Regions from separate parts of the Homo sapiens genome. Here region 2 is linked to region 1. Evidence: fine-mapped expression QTL. Tissue or cell type: whole blood. Region 1 holds a variant in brackets; the other region holds the start of a gene. All regions are shown on one strand. Distances are from middle to middle.

Region 1 (8,520 bases):
TGTTGCTCAGGCTGGTCTCGAGCTCCTGAGCTTAAGCAATCTGCCTGTGCTGGCCTTCCAAAGTGCTGGGATTACAGACGTGAGCTACTGGGCTCGGCCTGGATTTTTTTAAATTTTTATTTTTGATAAGTGTGAGTAGGTCACTGTGGAGGTGAGAAAAATTAGTGCCTTTAGACAAGAAGGTTTCTTTGAAGCTGGAGGTGCTCAGGACAACCTGCGGAGAAGAAACTGCTCTGAAAAGGAGGCATTAGTACAGACCTTTCTGGGGCTTTAGAAGACAAGGAAAAAAGATGCTGAAATAGCCTGAAACCCCCTGGTTTTATCAACTTCTCCATCATATGCAGGCATTTGCCCACTTCCAACACGCATTTGAAAAATCTTCCCATGCAAACAAAAGAATTGATACCACTTGGCATAGCTGAGCCCTGCGAAGCTTTATGTTTCAACACCTGAGGTCACCTGAGATTAACCAAGTGTGGCACAAATAGAAAACCACACTTGATAGTTGAGACTATCCAGAGTGGCTTGTCATGAGGTGAGCTTGCTCGCTTAGGGCTAAATCAAAATTTTCTCTCAAATCTTTTGAAAAATAATTCTAGCAACAGCTCTCATTCCCTGAGAAGCCACGTGTGAGCCATGGATTGGGTGTTGGGTGCTTCGGATATTTTCTCTCTTATCCTCTCAGTGATCCTGCCCTGAAGGTGTTGTCAGCCTCATTTTATAGTTGAGGAAACTGGGTCTCAGAGAAGCTGAGTAACTTGGTGAAGGTCACGCAGCTAGCAAGTGCTGGAGCCGGTCTCCTCACCTAGCTGTCTCCTACCTTAAAGCTCCATACTTTTCCTACCGCCACTGTAGCCTCTCATGGAAACCTTGATTGCTAGCAGTGTCAGAGCGGGGCCCTGAGCATGGAATTCCTATGTGTCAAAATGTGGATGGATGGAGATGGATGTTAGCACCTGCTGGAGGGAGGGGGGACAGCCAGCATGTTCCATCCTTCATTCTGCAGAGAGAGAACCCACCATGTCACCATCCACCTGGACTGGTGTCCGGAGAGGTGGCCAGAAGTCTCTGCAGTTCCTTGGCCGCTTTGTAGCTGGGGCTGTTGCTAGCAATTCTTCTGAAGTTTTAGCATTTGTTTAAGGACTTCTTTCTGCCCGCCAGGGTGGTGTGCCTACCACTGTTACTTACTGCTGTCAGCGGCACATGGGACTCTGCTGTGTTCCTTAAATGTTGTGGGTATTGGTTTGTCACTCAAAGGAAAAAGGAATCTGCAATTAAGTAGATTCTTGCCACCAGGAGGTGGAGGGGCTCCAGGCTTGCTCTGGGCTGAAGATTGAGTGGGAGCTCTCTCTCAGGTGAGATGCCTCTTCCCTCTAAGCCTGTCTAACCGTGGATTTCCTCTACCTAATATTGCAAAAGTGTATTTATTTGCAGAGAAAAATGTTAAGGAATCAGCAGTTTTCAAAAAGAGATAACCGAAAGCAGCGTTTAAAGACAGAAGCACCTAGTGTGGTCTTCTCTGCTGTCCTTCCTTTGACTTGCAATTCTTCTCAGAATCCTTGTATCAGAGCCCAAGGGTCTGGAGCAGCTTTGGCCTCCGTGCGGTATGGGGTGTTTCCAGACACATGTCGCCTTCATCAGTCACTTCTGAAGTCTTGGCTCCTCACCCTCTCTTAGGCTGTTTTTTCATCTCAACATAGCATTAATGACAAGCTCCATCTTACCTGTATTGCAAGGTAGTTTTAGTGAACAAGCGAAGTCCTTGCCATAATGTGCTTCACAAATTGTGACTTCATGGAGAATGTTTGTTCTTGCTGTCGTGGCAGTAGATAGTCGTGGAGGTAGTTTTGCTGGGTGTAGTCTGTCTGGGAAGTTTTCTGCCTGACAGGGGGAACCCGCGTTTCCCTTTTGGTTGCCCCCTCTGCTGTCAGCTGTTTCTGGTGAGGCCCTCTTGGTAGGGCTGGATGGAGCTGAATGTGTTAGGAGAAGGATCGATGGCTAGAATGATTTTTATTGTCACAGTCCCTTCCACCTTTCAGTATCTGTCAACTTTTATTAAATTTTTTTTTTAAAAATTGGCTTTTAAGTATGCTCAAAGGGAACTGCGTTAAGAAAAATAAGGGGCTTGAAGAAAGGATAAAAGATAGTGTAGAAAAAAATTCCCTTAGACTTCACTGGAGACACGCCCACACACACACACGCACACCCACACATACCCACACGCACCACACCCACAGCACACACACATACCGTGTACAAACACACCCACACACACACCACACACACACTGCGTACACACACACCACCACACCCCCAAACACACCCTATACACACACCACACCACACTCATACCTACCCCACACCACACACATACCCGCCCCCACACAGCCCCCCACGTCCTTCACACACCACACCCCACCCCTCACACACCACACGAAACACCCAGATACACATACACATAACATCACACACAATACCACACACACACAGCACACACCCCACACACACACTCACACACAATTGACCCTTGAGCAACACATGGGTTGCGGGAGCAACACAATGACTCATGCAGTCAAAAATCCACACATTACTTTTGACTCCGAAAAATCTTAATTCCTAATAGCCTACAGTTGGCTGGAAGCCTTACCAAAACTAGAAATAGTTGATGAACACATATTTTGTATGTTACATGTATTCTATTCTGCATTCTTACAATAAAGTAAGCTAGAGAAAAGAAAATGTTATTAAGAAAGTCGTAAGGAAAAGAAAGTGCATTTACTGTGCTTTAAGTGGAAGTGGATCATCTTAAAGGTCTTCGTCCTCTTCATGTTGAGTGGGCTGAGGAGGAAGCGGAGGGTTGGTTTTGCGGTCTCAGGGGTGGCAGAGGTAGAAGAAAAATATCCATGTCTCATTGGACCCAGGAAGTTCAAACCCATGTTGCTCAAGGGTCAATTGTATGATTTAAAAATTTTTTAGGTTGTGATAAAATGCACACAAAATGTACCGTCTTTGTAGTAGACAGTTCAGTGGTGTTAAGCGTATTCACATTGTTGTTCAGCCAATCCCCAGAATTTTCTCATCTTGCAAACCTGAATCCTACGCCCATTAAACCACACCTCTCCATTCCCCCTCCCTCCAGCCCCTGGCCATCACCATTCTAATTGAAGATAATTTTCAGTGTTAGCAGTTGTAGAACAAAAACATGATTTTCCCTCCAAAAAAGGAATAAATGGAATGAAATCAAGCAAAAGCCTGAAAACTACAAAGCTTCATGTGTATATTTTGAGATATTATCACTACGTTCATAGGGAAGTTGTTCTTTACAAGGAAAGATATTTTGTAATGGTTTGAGTTTTTGTGTAAAGCAGTGATTAAGTTTCACCGTTGGAGGAAAATAACAGCTAAGAAATTTTCAAGTGTTTCAAGATCATGTAAGCTGTCTGACTGAAATTATTAGCCTAAATAGGACAACATACCACACCTTCTCACTTATATGTGGAATGTAAAAAAGTAAACCTCATCGAAACAGGGAATAAAATGGTTACCACAGGCTGGAGGGAGAGGGGAATTGCAGAGATGTTAGCCAAAGGACATGAAATTTTAGTTAGGAGAAATAAGTTCAAGAGATGGATTGTACATCATGGTGACTGCAGTTAATAACAATATGTGGTATAATTGAAAATTGCTAAGAGAGTGAATTTTAAGCAGTCTCACCACAAAAGACAAAAAAAATGACAAGCATATGAGGCAGCGCGTGTGTTAAATAGTATGATTTAAACCATTCCATGATGTAGTATACATACATCAGAAGTATCATGTTGTACACCATAAGTATGTACAATCTTTGTCATTGTAAATATTAAATAAATGCTTTTTTTAATTAAAAAAAAAAAAGGATGGGCATGGGGGCTCACGCCTGTAATCCCAGCATTCTGGGAGGCCTAGGTGAGAGGATTGCTTGAGCTTAGGAGTTTGAGACCAGCCTGAGCAACATGGCAAAACCCCATCTCTGCAAAAAATACAAACATTAGCAGGGCGTGGTGGCGTGCATCTGTGGTCCCAGTTACTTGGGAGGCTGAAGTGGAAGGATCGCTTGAGCCTGGGGAGGTTGAGGCTGCAGTGAGCTGAGATCATGCCTCTGCACTAAAACCTAGGCAACAGAGTAAGACCCTGTCTCAAAAAAATAAAAAATAAAAATAAAGTATAAAGTGACTCTAGGATCATGGCACTGTCTTACACTTTCAGCGTCTGAAACAGAGGTGCCCTTGATAGTCTGTATGAATGTGTCTTTGGTGTCATGACATAGATTTTTGTCCCCCTGCAACAGCATGAACAGGCTGAACACTTTGCCACGAGGCTTCGGCTCCCTGCCAGCTCTTGAGGTTCTGGACTTGAC[G/T]TACAACAACTTGAGCGAAAATTCTCTTCCTGGAAACTTCTTCTACCTGAGTAAGAAACTTTCAATTCTATAAATCTCCTCAACCTTGTACTTTGCGTTCTGAGAGGGAAATTTATTTGCCAGGACCCAAACTCCAAGAGAAATTATTGGACAGAGATAATTTTTTCTTTAGAGACTCCTTTTGAATATTCCTTCGTAGCTCAGCAGTATGTGCATTTGATAGATCGTTATGTGACACCATTGGGCTGAAGTGGACTTAGTAATGTCATATTAACATTCTGAGAGAGATTATATACCTAAATGAGATCAAGCCTCACATTTAGCTAAGAGACTTGACTTTCTTTTTAAATAGCATGCCAAAAAAAAAAAAAAAAGTATCTTCCTATGTTGCTATTAATTCTTTGTAGGATATTTGCCCAGGATATTCCAACCAATTATTTATTAAAAATATTTATTAATAAACCAGTAACACAATTTTAAAATTTTCCAGCCAGTATTCCTATTTTGAGCCTTTTAAAAAGTACTCTTATTGACCTATTTATCCAGTACACAGGCATTAAGAAATTATTGGCCACAGGTGAACACACTTTATTCTTTCATATGCAAACAAATTTCTTGCTGGAGATGCTTTTGAAAATTAAAAAATGATTTCTTCTGGGAACTCATGCACTATTTTGGACAAGGTTTGCTTCCCTTAAATCAGTGTTCTATTTCTTCAAATAGTAACTTGTGTGGCATTCAGAAAATCTGAATTTTCAGAGCTGATCTCTAAAATTTTATTTTTTACCTTACGTACATTACCTTTCTATGACTTTCTCAAGCACATGAAACCAACTATAAAATATTTTCTTGGGCAGTGGAGCAACTATTTTTATTATGTTATATTAACATGCAGTTCTCGGGAGTATGAGCTACAAAGATCACTTGAGGCTAGGAGTTCAAGACCAGCCTGGGCAACATAGAGAGACCCTGTCTCTAGAAATAAAAATTTAAAAAGTAGCCAGGCATAGTAGCATGAGCCTGTGATCTTAGCTACTTGGGAGGCTGAGGTAGAAAGAGTGCTTGAGGCCAGGAGTTTGAGGCTGCAGTGACCCACTGCACTCCAGCCTAGGTGACAGAGCGAGACTCTGTCTCTAAAAAATAAATACGGGTAAACAAAACATGTATCTAATTATACTCAGCTTTTTTGGTTGAAGATAAACAGATGCTTTAGAATTTTAGCCTTCAGTAGGTTGGAATCGTATTATCATTGTGTAATAATTATGAACAAATTTCTGACTACTGATATTCTCCTTAAGTTAGGATTTACTCTGTTAACTTCATGTCATTATTTTAGCCTCTTTGTCTTCATTTACTTTTGTCCTTAAGGCTGTAGAAACACGTAGTAATAATTAGTCAGATTATGGAACTGATGAGCTGTGGTTATAGCCTCCATCACCAGAAAGCCTTCCATTAATTTGTAACACAGTGCTATTTACATAGGAAAAGGTCTATTTTAACAGAGCTGTATTCTCTTGAAAGAACCCTTTTGCCCTAGGTATCCATAAAAGTGGCACAGTAGTGTTCTTTGTTTTACTTTGGATGCAAATGGAGAAATAAATGTGAATCAAAAGTAATCTATGAGAAGTATAGCAATCTTTTCTGAAAATGTGCTGAAACTCTGTGCCCCAAAATGCTGGCGCCCACAGTTGTTAATTGCGTCATTCCTCTTGGATATAGATGTTTTCCTGGACACACCAGCTACACAATAAGCCAGTAAATCTAAGTTTGACCTGCTTGTTATTATTGGGAGCCCTAGGTATGTCAAAGGCTTTTCACCAAGCCAGGGTTATTAATCAAAGCTGACTCCCTCGTATTGATCAGACCTCAAATGGTTGTGTTCCATGCCACCCTGTTTATATATTGCTGTTTAATTTGCAGCCACCCTGCGTGCACTCTATCTAAGTGACAACGATTTTGAAATCCTGCCGCCAGATATTGGGAAGCTCACAAAGTTGCAGATAGTAAGTAATTTATCTAAATTCTTAGAAAATCAATTCACTGCTGCAGCCTTGTAGGGGTAGAATCAAGTCAATTTGAGCAGGAGTAAGGTTTGTTTTGTGGGAATAAACCACTACTCCTGATAGTGTTTCTTGATTATCCGCCGGCACTTGTAAATACATGGAAAGGATTGAGCTTTAGTAGAAGAGAGGACATAGAGGATGAGAGTTTCTGTGGAGCACCTTTTAATGTGTAAATATGTTGACAACTTGTTTTCTTCTGTTTAGCTCAGCCTTAGGGATAACGACCTGATCTCGCTGCCTAAGGAAATCGGGGAGCTTACCCAGCTTAAAGAGCTCCACATTCAGGGGAACCGCCTCACCGTTCTGCCCCCAGAACTAGGTAAGGTTGCTGATGAATGAACTTAGTTCTGGGTTTCATGAATAACAATTATCCTAATGTAGCAATTCTGAACAACCTCTGTCCTCTTCTTGGCAACTACTCTCCACCTAGGCACACGATGCTGATCATTTGAGAACCATTTGTCATTGACCAGAGTTAGCTGTTACAGGTTTGACCTTCCCGGATCCTGTGTTCTGCAGCTGTAGTGTCCCCTGTCTTAGAAACTGCTGATGAAAGATGACCCCGCTCAGCTCCCTGCGTGATGTAGTGGGAAAAGCATGGGATTAGTAGTAAGAGCCTTATCCCTGGCTCCTCATTGACTAGCTGGGTAAGCTTTCTGGGTCTTGGTTGGTTATTAATAACTTTAAGTATCACTCTTACTTTTTAACCCCTTAAATTTTTATTGACCTGGAAAAACTTTTACCAAATAGTTAAAGTAGTTGTTATGGCTACTTGAACATGTTGATACCTCTGCGGGTCGTGAATTTGCCTCTCTCCTGATCCCATCTCTAGTAGGAATTGTTAAATATGTTCTTGCTGGGAATGGATCCTACTCCTGGCCGCTGAATCCTAATCCTGTTTCTCTGCCAGGTCGTTCCTATTTCCAGGGTGGGTTTATGTCCCCCGCCAGAAATAACCTCCAAGCCAGTAATTCTGTTACTGCTTCGTTCCACTGCAAAAGGTTCACGAGTTCCCTTATCTTTTCTTGTGCAGACCCTCCATAGCCTCTCATTTCTTCAGTCCTTTGAACCACATTGTTTTCTCAAACTGCGATTATTTGCTTTTCTACTCCAAAATACCATCATTTTTAAGAAACACATTGAGGAAGCAGTTCTTTAAACAAGTTTGGCAGTTTGAAGAGGCCATTTGTTAGAAATTAGAATGCAATCACCAGGAGGGCAGGGACATTTTTGTATTTGTTCCCTCGGGTACAGTAGGTGCTCAGAAAACACTGACTGAATGAATTAATGAAGCAAGGACCTTGGATGACAGGACGTTAGGAAGGTTATGAGCAGGCTCATGTGGCTAATGGTTACGCATAGGAAGACTGAGACACAGAGCACGCCTATCAGCACCTTGAGTTCTGTTGGCAGCCATATTAGTCTAAAGGGAAGGCAGTCACGTGATTTCGTGGACCAGCTGGGAAGTCCCGCCTCCTCTCTTGCCATTTCCCTTAGCTCTCTTGCTAGTGTTAAAAATCCACCTAGAGGATTATTTAATGATTTTTTAAGGGCTGAGGAGCAACTCAACACTTCTCTTTACTGAGTTGCAAGTAGTCACGTGTTGCTTTGGGAGCAGGGTGACAGAATCAAGAAACGCTTTTTGCAAACATTTTCAAGGCAAAAAACTTCTTGTTAAAGGAGAGATCTCGGGCCGGGCACGGTGGCTCCCAGTTGTAATCCCAGCACTTTGGGAGGCCGAAGCAGGCGGATAGCTTGAGCCCAGGAGTCTGAGACCAGCCTGTGCAACATGGTGAAACCCCGTCTCTACAAAAAGTACAAAAAATTAGCTGGACGTGGTGGTGCATGCCTGTAGTCCCAGCTACTCGGGAGGCTGAGGTGGGAGGATCACCTGAGCCTGGGAGGTCAAAGCTGCAGTGAGCAGTGATCGTGCCACTGCACTCCTGGCTGGGTGACAGAACAAGACCTTGTTGAAAGGAAAAAAAAAAAAAAAAGAGAGATCTTGTACAGTGGTTAATAACCACAGATGTTAGCATAAGTAATAGCTGGGGAGCTTCTGCA
Region 2 (8,235 bases), 63 kb before region 1:
TGCTGCTTAGAAATTTTTTCCACCAGATACCCCAGGTTGCCACTCTTTAGTTCAAACTTCCACAGATCCCTAGGGCATGGACAGAATGCAGCCAAGTTCTTTGCTAAGGCATAATATGTGTCACCTTTGCTCCAGTTCCCACTAAGTTCCTCATTACCATCGAAGACCTTGGCAGCCTGGACTTCATTATCCATATCACTATCAGAATTTTAGTTGCAACTTTTAAACAGTCTCTAAGAAGTTCCAAATTTTCCCTCATCTTTATGTCTTCTGAGCCTTCCAAACTCTTCCAACCTCTACCCATTATCTTGTTCCAAAGTCAGTTCCACATTTTCAGGTATCTTTATAACAAAACCCCACTCCTGGTACCAATTTTCTGTAATAGATCATTCTTGCATTGCTATAAAGAAATACCCGAGACTGGGTAACTTATAAAGAAAAGAGGTTTAATCTGCTCACAGCTCTGCAGGCTTTATAGGAAACATGGTGCTGACATCTGCTTGGCTTCTGGGGCAGCCTCAGGAAGCTTATAATCATGGAGGAAGGCGAAGGGGAAACAGGCATGTCACACGGTGAAAGCAGGAGCAAGACAGCGAGAGTATGGGACAGGTGCCACACACTTTTAAGTGGCCAGCTCTCATGTGAACTCAGAGCAAGAGCTCACTTATCACCAAGGGTATGGCCCAAGCCATTCATGAGGGATCTACCCCCACGATCTAAACACCTCCCACCAGGCCGATCTCCAACACTGGCTTTTATAACTCAACATGAGATTTGAGCAGGGACAAATATCCAAACTCTATTATGTATTTACGCTCAGGAGTACAAAGTTTCCATAAGCACCACCATTGCCTATTCCTTAACACAATATGTTAAGTTATAAATAAACAATATGGTTTGCCACTTAACAAGAAGTAGAAAGTTCAGTAGCACATCCTTATCTCCAATGCTGCCAGACATGTAACTAAGTGAGGTAGTTATTAGCTTCCTTTTCATAAGAAAATTCAATGCTTTTATAAAGTTTTTCAGTGCCTCTAGAAAAGCGGAAGCCTTTACAAAGGAGATTTGCTTTATGTTAATTATGCAAAATCAAGGGTTATTAACAAAAGACCATGTGAATGAGAGAAGCTGAGGAATGTAACTTCATCTTACTCTAATACTCAAATGGCAGATAATTATTTCTGGACAGAGTATGGAGCCACAGAAATAAAATACTCTAACCTTGAAAATTCAGCTACTCAGGAGGCTGAGGCTGGACAATCACTTGAACCTAGGAGGCGGAGGTTTCAGTGAGCCAACATCGCGCCACTTCACTCCAGTGTGGGTTACAGAATGAGACTCCATCTCAAAAAAACAAACAACAACAACAACAATTCCTGCTCCCTTTTTGTATTATGGATAGACATATCAACTTTATGGGTGACAATTACATTGGAAAGGACAGTGAATGCGATAAGTAACACCATCAAATCCAAAAGGTCTTGATAAGCTACAACAATGGGCCAATTGTAACAGACGAAATGTGACAGATATAAGATCTTCCTCTTTTATCAAAAAATGAATTGCAAAAGTACAGAATACAGGGAAAGTTTAACAATAACATGAAATGACATAGTACTTTTCTGAAAGAAAGATTAACATGATGTCACTGTCAAAAAAATGATGCTTAGAGCATGGACTGCATCATTAGAGTAACGGTATCATTTCCACTCAGAAGGGCATGCTTTTCTAGGAGGCATATTGGAATATCTGGGAAGTGTGTACCTGAAATTGAGGAAAGCATAGTCAATATTATTATGTAATTTTAAAATTAAAAATACAGAAAAAAAGAGACAAAATGAAGCTTTACAAAATCTTCCAGGCTGGGCATCTAGGAAATAAGCAGTGATTTTTTAGTGGGTTAGGGATGGTCAGGCTTGGGAGCATGACATTTTCGTGTATAGCCAAGGGAAGTAGTTATTGAGTAATTCAGTTTTTGAGTAATTCAGCTGGAAGAAGGAGAAAAGAGTCAACTGTACTCTCATTCGTAAGACCCACCGTATATCCTCTGGTTCTGCTTTACATTTAATTCACTTGTTTCCAAATGTTTATTGAGCATCAGCTATGTGATACGTACTCAGCGCACTGAGGATAAAGCAGAGAACAAGACAGCCATACAAGACTATCAGCTGATGTCTCCCAGCTTCACAAAGCACACTTCCCAGCTCCATCTTGCTTGATTTCCTGAGCCAGTCCTGAGGCAAAAACCTTAATATTCTTATCTGGTGAAACATACATTGAGCCAACTTCCCAGATCTAGTGGCCAAGGGATAAGTTTCCTGATTCCAAATTGTGTCACCATGAAGTTTCACTGCTAGCAATCAGGACCCTGGACAGGCTAACCATCATCCTAGCAAATTAATCAAACCTGAGAAGGGGGTGTGGGAACCCTGATTTATAGCTGGTCAGTCAGAAGTGTAGGTGACAGTCAACCTAAAGTCTTGTGGAAATGAACCCTTAACTTGTGGGATTTGACTATAAGTTGAGGTAGACAGTGTCAGAATTAAGTTAAACTGTAAGACACCGAGCTGGTGTCTGCTGGAGAACTGTTTCATGTGTGGGGGATTCTCTGGTGTCAGAAGTGTTGAGCCAGTGGAGAGTAGCAAAAACAGTTTGGTTTTTCCTATCTCAAACAGGAGTGAAAACAAATTCCTATGAAACAGAAGTGAATGGAGGCATGCAGCTCAAAATAACTTCAAGAGAGACATGCAGGAGGGCTGGGACTCTCTGTTCCAGGTGTAACCTGGATGTGGGGCTGGCTGGTGCAGTGTGAGGGGCTAAAACCAAAGTCAGGGAGTTGCCCTAACTGGCACTCACAATCCACCATTTCCCTCCACCTGCAAAGGTAGCCGGGTGATGACCTGCAGGCATAATACTGGGTTCTTGCCTCTGAAGAAATTCGACTATCAGTCTAGGGATCTAGGAGGAAAACAATACAAACAAACAAGAGACCACTCCAGCTATCTAGAAAAACCAGTTCAGATCTTCACACTTGAACTCAAAAGAACAACCAAGAATCAATCACCAGAGAGGGGAAGAATCTTTCTTTTCTAGGGAAAAGACTAGATAAATACACGTAAGAATGGACCCTTGAAGAAACATAATTGAGTGAACAGAAGAGAGGTTTAAAAACTATTATCCTCGGTGATACCTGAGAAGAGAGTACATTCATGAAACAAATGCAGGGTGTTATTATAGGCCGGCAGTCCAATAGGACTGGTGTCCTTAGAAGAAGAGACACCAAGGGTGTGACTGCATAGAGAAAATGCCCTGGAGGGACACCAAGAGAAGACAGTCGTCCACGAGGCAGGGGAGAGGCCACAGGATAAATCAAATCTGCTGGCACCTTGATCTAGAACTTCCAGGATTGTGAGAAATTTCTGTTGTTTAAGCCATCCAGGCTGTGGTATATTGTTACGACAGCCCTAGCCGACTAACACAGGTACTGTATGTCTTCAGCCTACCTAGGCAAGATTCACTATTAGAAATTGATAGAATAAGAAAAATTCTGATTGCTTCAAAACAGGACTTTTGCTTTAAAAGAGTTAATGATTCAAGAAATAAATGTATTAGGAGATTACCTACTAATACGTATTGATGAAATTATGAAGTTAGAAAATCATCAGTGGATGCTAAAACTTGTGGGTAAAAATTAGATGAGGAATGGGGTGTAATCAAGTAGCACCTCCCCCCAGCATTATTTTTAATCATAAAGAAAAAAATAGTAACTTTATGGTGAAGAAACCTGGCAGACACTACCTTATTTAAGTGAACATCACCTATACTGGGAGAAACCGATGCCATCTGTACCTTGATATCATGCACTGGAAAAGACACATCGCTTTAGTGGTGTTTCTCCAAAAATTCATAACCTGAAAGGGAACATCAAACTTACTTTGAAGGATATTCCACACAATACCTGGTCTGTATTCTTAAATAATGTCTAGTTCAATAAACATAAAAGCCAAGGACGGTTCCAGATCAAAGAAGACTAATGGAGGAATAACTCTTTCATCTGGAATGTTTTTTAAGCAAGAAATACCTGCTTTCGAATTTAAGAGTGCAGATCCTTTTTTTATCCAATTGGTTCGGAGATATAATTACATTATTTTACCACATCTCCTTAAGGCTTTGATCCCTGCTACAATCTACAATATATAAATGCATATGTGTGGCATCCGTCTTATCATCAATTTAGGTGACCAGTAGAAGAAAAGTGCCTGGTGCCAATTTTTATTCCATAGTATAAAATAGTCTCTCAGGACAGGGTTTTTGGTGAGAGAAGCACAGGATGTTGCTGGGTGACTGAGACTGGGTCAGGAAATAGGGAGGCAGAGGGCAACAGTTTCTCTAGAATTTAAAATTTGGTTGCTTTTGGAAGAGAAAGCAAGAGATTCCTGGAAGCCAGAACGTCATGTTTCACAAATGTAAAAGTCCTAGTTGGGAAAGACACATCGCTTTAGTGGTGTTTTCAAATGACTTTTAAAATAGTAGGGTTTTACTTGTAGGTTCTAGCTACAAGTAAAAAGGCTAAAAGCCAGCCTTAGAAACCTGTCAAAAAAGATTTCCAGCAGGGCGCTGGGGAAACGCAGACCGCGCCGGAATCCCCGCCTGGAGAAGCTCTTAATAGGGCGGGAAACTGCGTGCCCCACAAGGTCCCTCAGAGGCACATTGTGGAGACGGGCTCAGGGTAGCAACTTCTGGCGAGTGGAGCGGCTATTACACAAGCGAAACATTCGGAAGCAATTTACTTCCAGCTTTCGCAACACCCACCCTGAGCCACCACCCTCCCTTACACAGTCACGCCACAAACTTCCCCACTTCCGCCCACAGCCCTCTGGGCTTCGACCCATCAACTGAGCTTGCGCCAAGTCTACTGCGCACGCGCCAACTTCGGCCCAATCAGCGTCCCAAACCGTGGGGTGGACGCCACCGGGATAAACTATCCTCAGCGTGGGGCGGGGTCTCGAAGCCGAATAACGAACGTGATTAGCCAGCCTCTTCCACAGACTTTTAAGGGCGGAGCCTGGCCCTGGAGACACGTCTGGAGAGCTGTTCTCCTAATATGGGTAGGGTCGGGCGTGGAGCTGGCAGCGGCGCTGTGTGCGCCTGCGCGGGGCGCCGAGACAGGGCGTGTTCGCTGTTCAGTGCCGGTGTTGCAGGGAGTGAGGGCAGCTGGAGTGCGTTCTGCCGAAGCTTGTGGTTGCACGCCCATCGTCTTAGGGGCTACCTTCCGTGGTGAGTGTGTGCGGTGTTGCACTTGGGGTTGCTTCTCGCTGCGTGGCCGCAGCGGGGCTGAACCCTTCCCACTCCATCCCCTCCCCGCACCCGGACCAGCCCCTGGGACGCCCTCGGACGCCCACCCGCTCCAACCCTGGGGAAGCCTCAGAGTGGCAGCGAAGGCCTCTTGCCTTTCCGCCTCTGCGCTTGCTGTCATCGCCCACGTGCTTTGTTGTTGTTCGGTGCAGACCATGTCCAAGTCTCTGAAGAAGTTGGTGGAGGAGAGCCGGGAGAAGAACCAGCCCGAGGTGGACATGAGTGACCGGGGCATCTCCAACATGCTGGATGTCAACGGCCTCTGTGAGTTCTCGGGCAGGACTCTCCCGTGGATGAGCTGGAAGGCTTTCTAAGTTTGCCAATTCACTGCTGGTCCTGCTGTGAGCGATTGTACTGGTTTAGACCCCAGCCCCTGCTTGTAAACCTCACTTGTCAGGGGCTTCGCGCAGAGGGTTTGCAGTAGGATTTGTTCTGTTCCACCTGGAAAACGATCCTGAGAGTCCACGATGAGAATCACACAGACAGCTGTGCCTCATCGGTTGTCTCTGCTGTATGGCATTGAGGTGGATTTTCCACAGTTTGCTTAATAGTCACTTTAATTATAAATTGAAAATTAATTTTGAGTCCTTCTTCCTGTCTCCTAATACAGTCTTTGTCCATGAACAAATGACACAGAAAAGTTCCATGGTTAATAAGCATTCTTGTGCCTGGAGCGTTTTAAGCATTTCTTGAATCTTTACATTCTTCTGAGTATTTATTCTCCGAACTTGGTTCAGGCTTTTGTCACCTCCTCATGCTGTGGTGAAATCCTCCTAACTTGCCCTCTTGCCTTCAGTTTCACTGCCCAGTTTAATCACTGGGTCACTTTCAGTGTCATTTTCCTGTAACCCCTGTCTATGGTGTTACCCTCTCCCTTAAAACCAGGGATTGCAGATTCACATGCCTCCAAGTGAGGGCGGTCAGGGGCGGTTATGAACTAGGTGATAGGTGTCCCACTTGAAGGGGCCAGCTGCTGCACCTGCTACTCAGACACATGTCACCATAGGAATGTTGGCCCAATGTGCCAGATTATTTTCTTAAAGGAACCAAGATTCTATATTTTTATGTGAAATTTGCTAATTTTTAGATGTTGGCTACTAATTCTAATATTTGAAAAACCTGTGATAAGTGAGCTAAAGCAGTTCTTCAGGCTGACGTGGCTTTGGTTTAAACCCTCTCCGCACTTCTCCAGGTTGTCCATTATCGACGGTAATGCTCCAGGTTTCTTGGCGTGATGTACAAGGCCTTTCTGAATCTGAACACAACCTTACCCTTCCATGCAGCTGGCATTCCAGCCATTCTGAACCTGTTGCCCTTCCTGGACCAGAGCCTACTCGTTCAGATCTTGGTGCCTTTACAAATTCTGTTTTCCCTCTTTCTCAGTCGTTTGCACCTGAAATCCTTTTACTTCTAAGAGTCAGCTTAGACATCACCACCTGTGTAAAACCTTATCCGTCTGCACCAGGCTAACATATCCCTTCCCTCCTCTGTGAAGGTGGTCGTGTGTATTGCTTTGTGACTCCTCTCACATAGGATTGTACTGATTTTTTTCTTTTTTAATCTAGAAGTCTCTCTTCTCTGCTGGGACATTGGGAAGACAAAAGCTGTGCAATATTCATGCTTGCATTTTTTTAATAATAGTGCCTGGAGCACAGTAGATGCTCAAAAATAGTTGAGGAATGAAGAAAATGAAAGAATGATGGATTAGGCCTGTGAGTTTGGGATATCAACTCCAGGATGTGACAAGAGAGAAGAAGGGAGATGTTCAGGAGACCCTGAAAGGCGATGGATAGCCATTTAGGCATGGAGAGAACTGCAGAGTCAGGTTTACTGTGAATTCACGGTTTTCACGGTTCGAAAACCTGCCTGGGACAGAGGTTGGAGTTGATGCTATTGATATGTCTTGGCAGAAGGAAAAGGGAGGAAACGTAGATTTGCGTTTCGTAGGCTTTATGAAAATACGTGCCATTAAACTTAGGTTGTGTACTAGTTAGCCTCTCAGGCTTGGTGTGTGTTGGTCTCTTGCATTCCGTAAGGGTCCTTGCTGTCAGCAACTGAGCAGATGCCTCTGGAATTGGATATCTGAGTTTGCCCCTTGCTGCGCCTGCCCGGCTCTGCCATGACCATGGTCATTATTGGGGGCACTGTTGATACAGAGGAGAAAGAGAAGGGGATAGGGAAGATGATGCATAGCGGGAACCTTGGCCCCATGGCCTTCCTCCCTACAGCACTCATTCTCACCAGGTAGAAGAGAGGCTGCTTTCAGCAGAGGAGCTTTGTACCCTTCGGCTTTTGAAGAGGAGACTTTATGTAATATTTATAAATGGGGAGAATGGCTTAGCTATTTCGGTTCAGCTCCGTTATCTCTTTGAAGCCTTGGCTTTTATTAAGGAAGAAAAGCCACTTGCTTCCTGAAATATATTTCCGGTATAACATTGGGTGGTGAAAAGCGAGATCATTCTTAAATTTTCCTAAAGAAGTAGCTAACAACGGATAATAGTACTTTTTGGGAAGTTGGGTGGAAGTGAATTTGGAGATTTGCAGATTCCATCTCCTCTGGCTTCTGTAGCATTGAGCCAAGGCTGCTCTCTGCAAACTCCCTGACCTCAGGACTTCTCGGAGCCTAGGGGGTTCCAGGATGCTCTTCGAAGCCTCCACCAGGGCTCACTTCTCAGCAGTGCACACACACTGACACAGTGCTTAATATATACAAGTATTAAAATACTTCACATGGCTACATTAATTATAAGTGTAAGAATTTTTTTTTCTTTTTTTTTTTTTTTTTCCTGAAAACAGGGTCTCGCTCTGTCACCCAGGCTGGAATGCAGTGGTGCAGTCACAGCTCCCTGGGGCCTCACCCTCCCAGGCTCAAGCAATCCT

The links. PIP is the estimated chance that this variant, and not a neighbour inherited with it, causes the effect.
Region 2: it holds the start of RSU1, and the variant in region 1 is fine-mapped to the expression of RSU1 in whole blood (TOPMed, PIP 0.98).

What each region holds. Positions count from the first base shown.
Region 1 is chr10:16,750,797-16,759,316 of GRCh38, reverse strand. RSU1 (Ras suppressor protein 1) reads left to right here. Exons shown (of 9, transcript NM_012425.4): 5 at 4,328-4,446; 6 at 6,317-6,399; 7 at 6,664-6,778. Among named protein-coding and RNA genes, the nearest start is that of RSU1, 62 kb to the left of the region's middle. RefSeq lists a silencer at 1-35. The variant G/T (reference allele first, on the strand shown) is at 4,397.
Region 2 is chr10:16,814,357-16,822,591 of GRCh38, reverse strand. RSU1 (Ras suppressor protein 1) reads left to right here and starts at 5,168. Exons shown (of 9, transcript NM_012425.4): 1 at 5,168-5,277; 2 at 5,508-5,619. The coding sequence starts at 5,511. LOC105376435 (a long non-coding RNA gene) reads right to left here and starts at 4,893. Exons shown (of 3, transcript XR_930708.3): 1 at 4,836-4,893; 2 at 3,850-3,911; 3 at 1,335-1,764. RefSeq lists enhancers at 4,550-4,599, 4,630-4,719, 4,750-4,859, 5,530-5,689.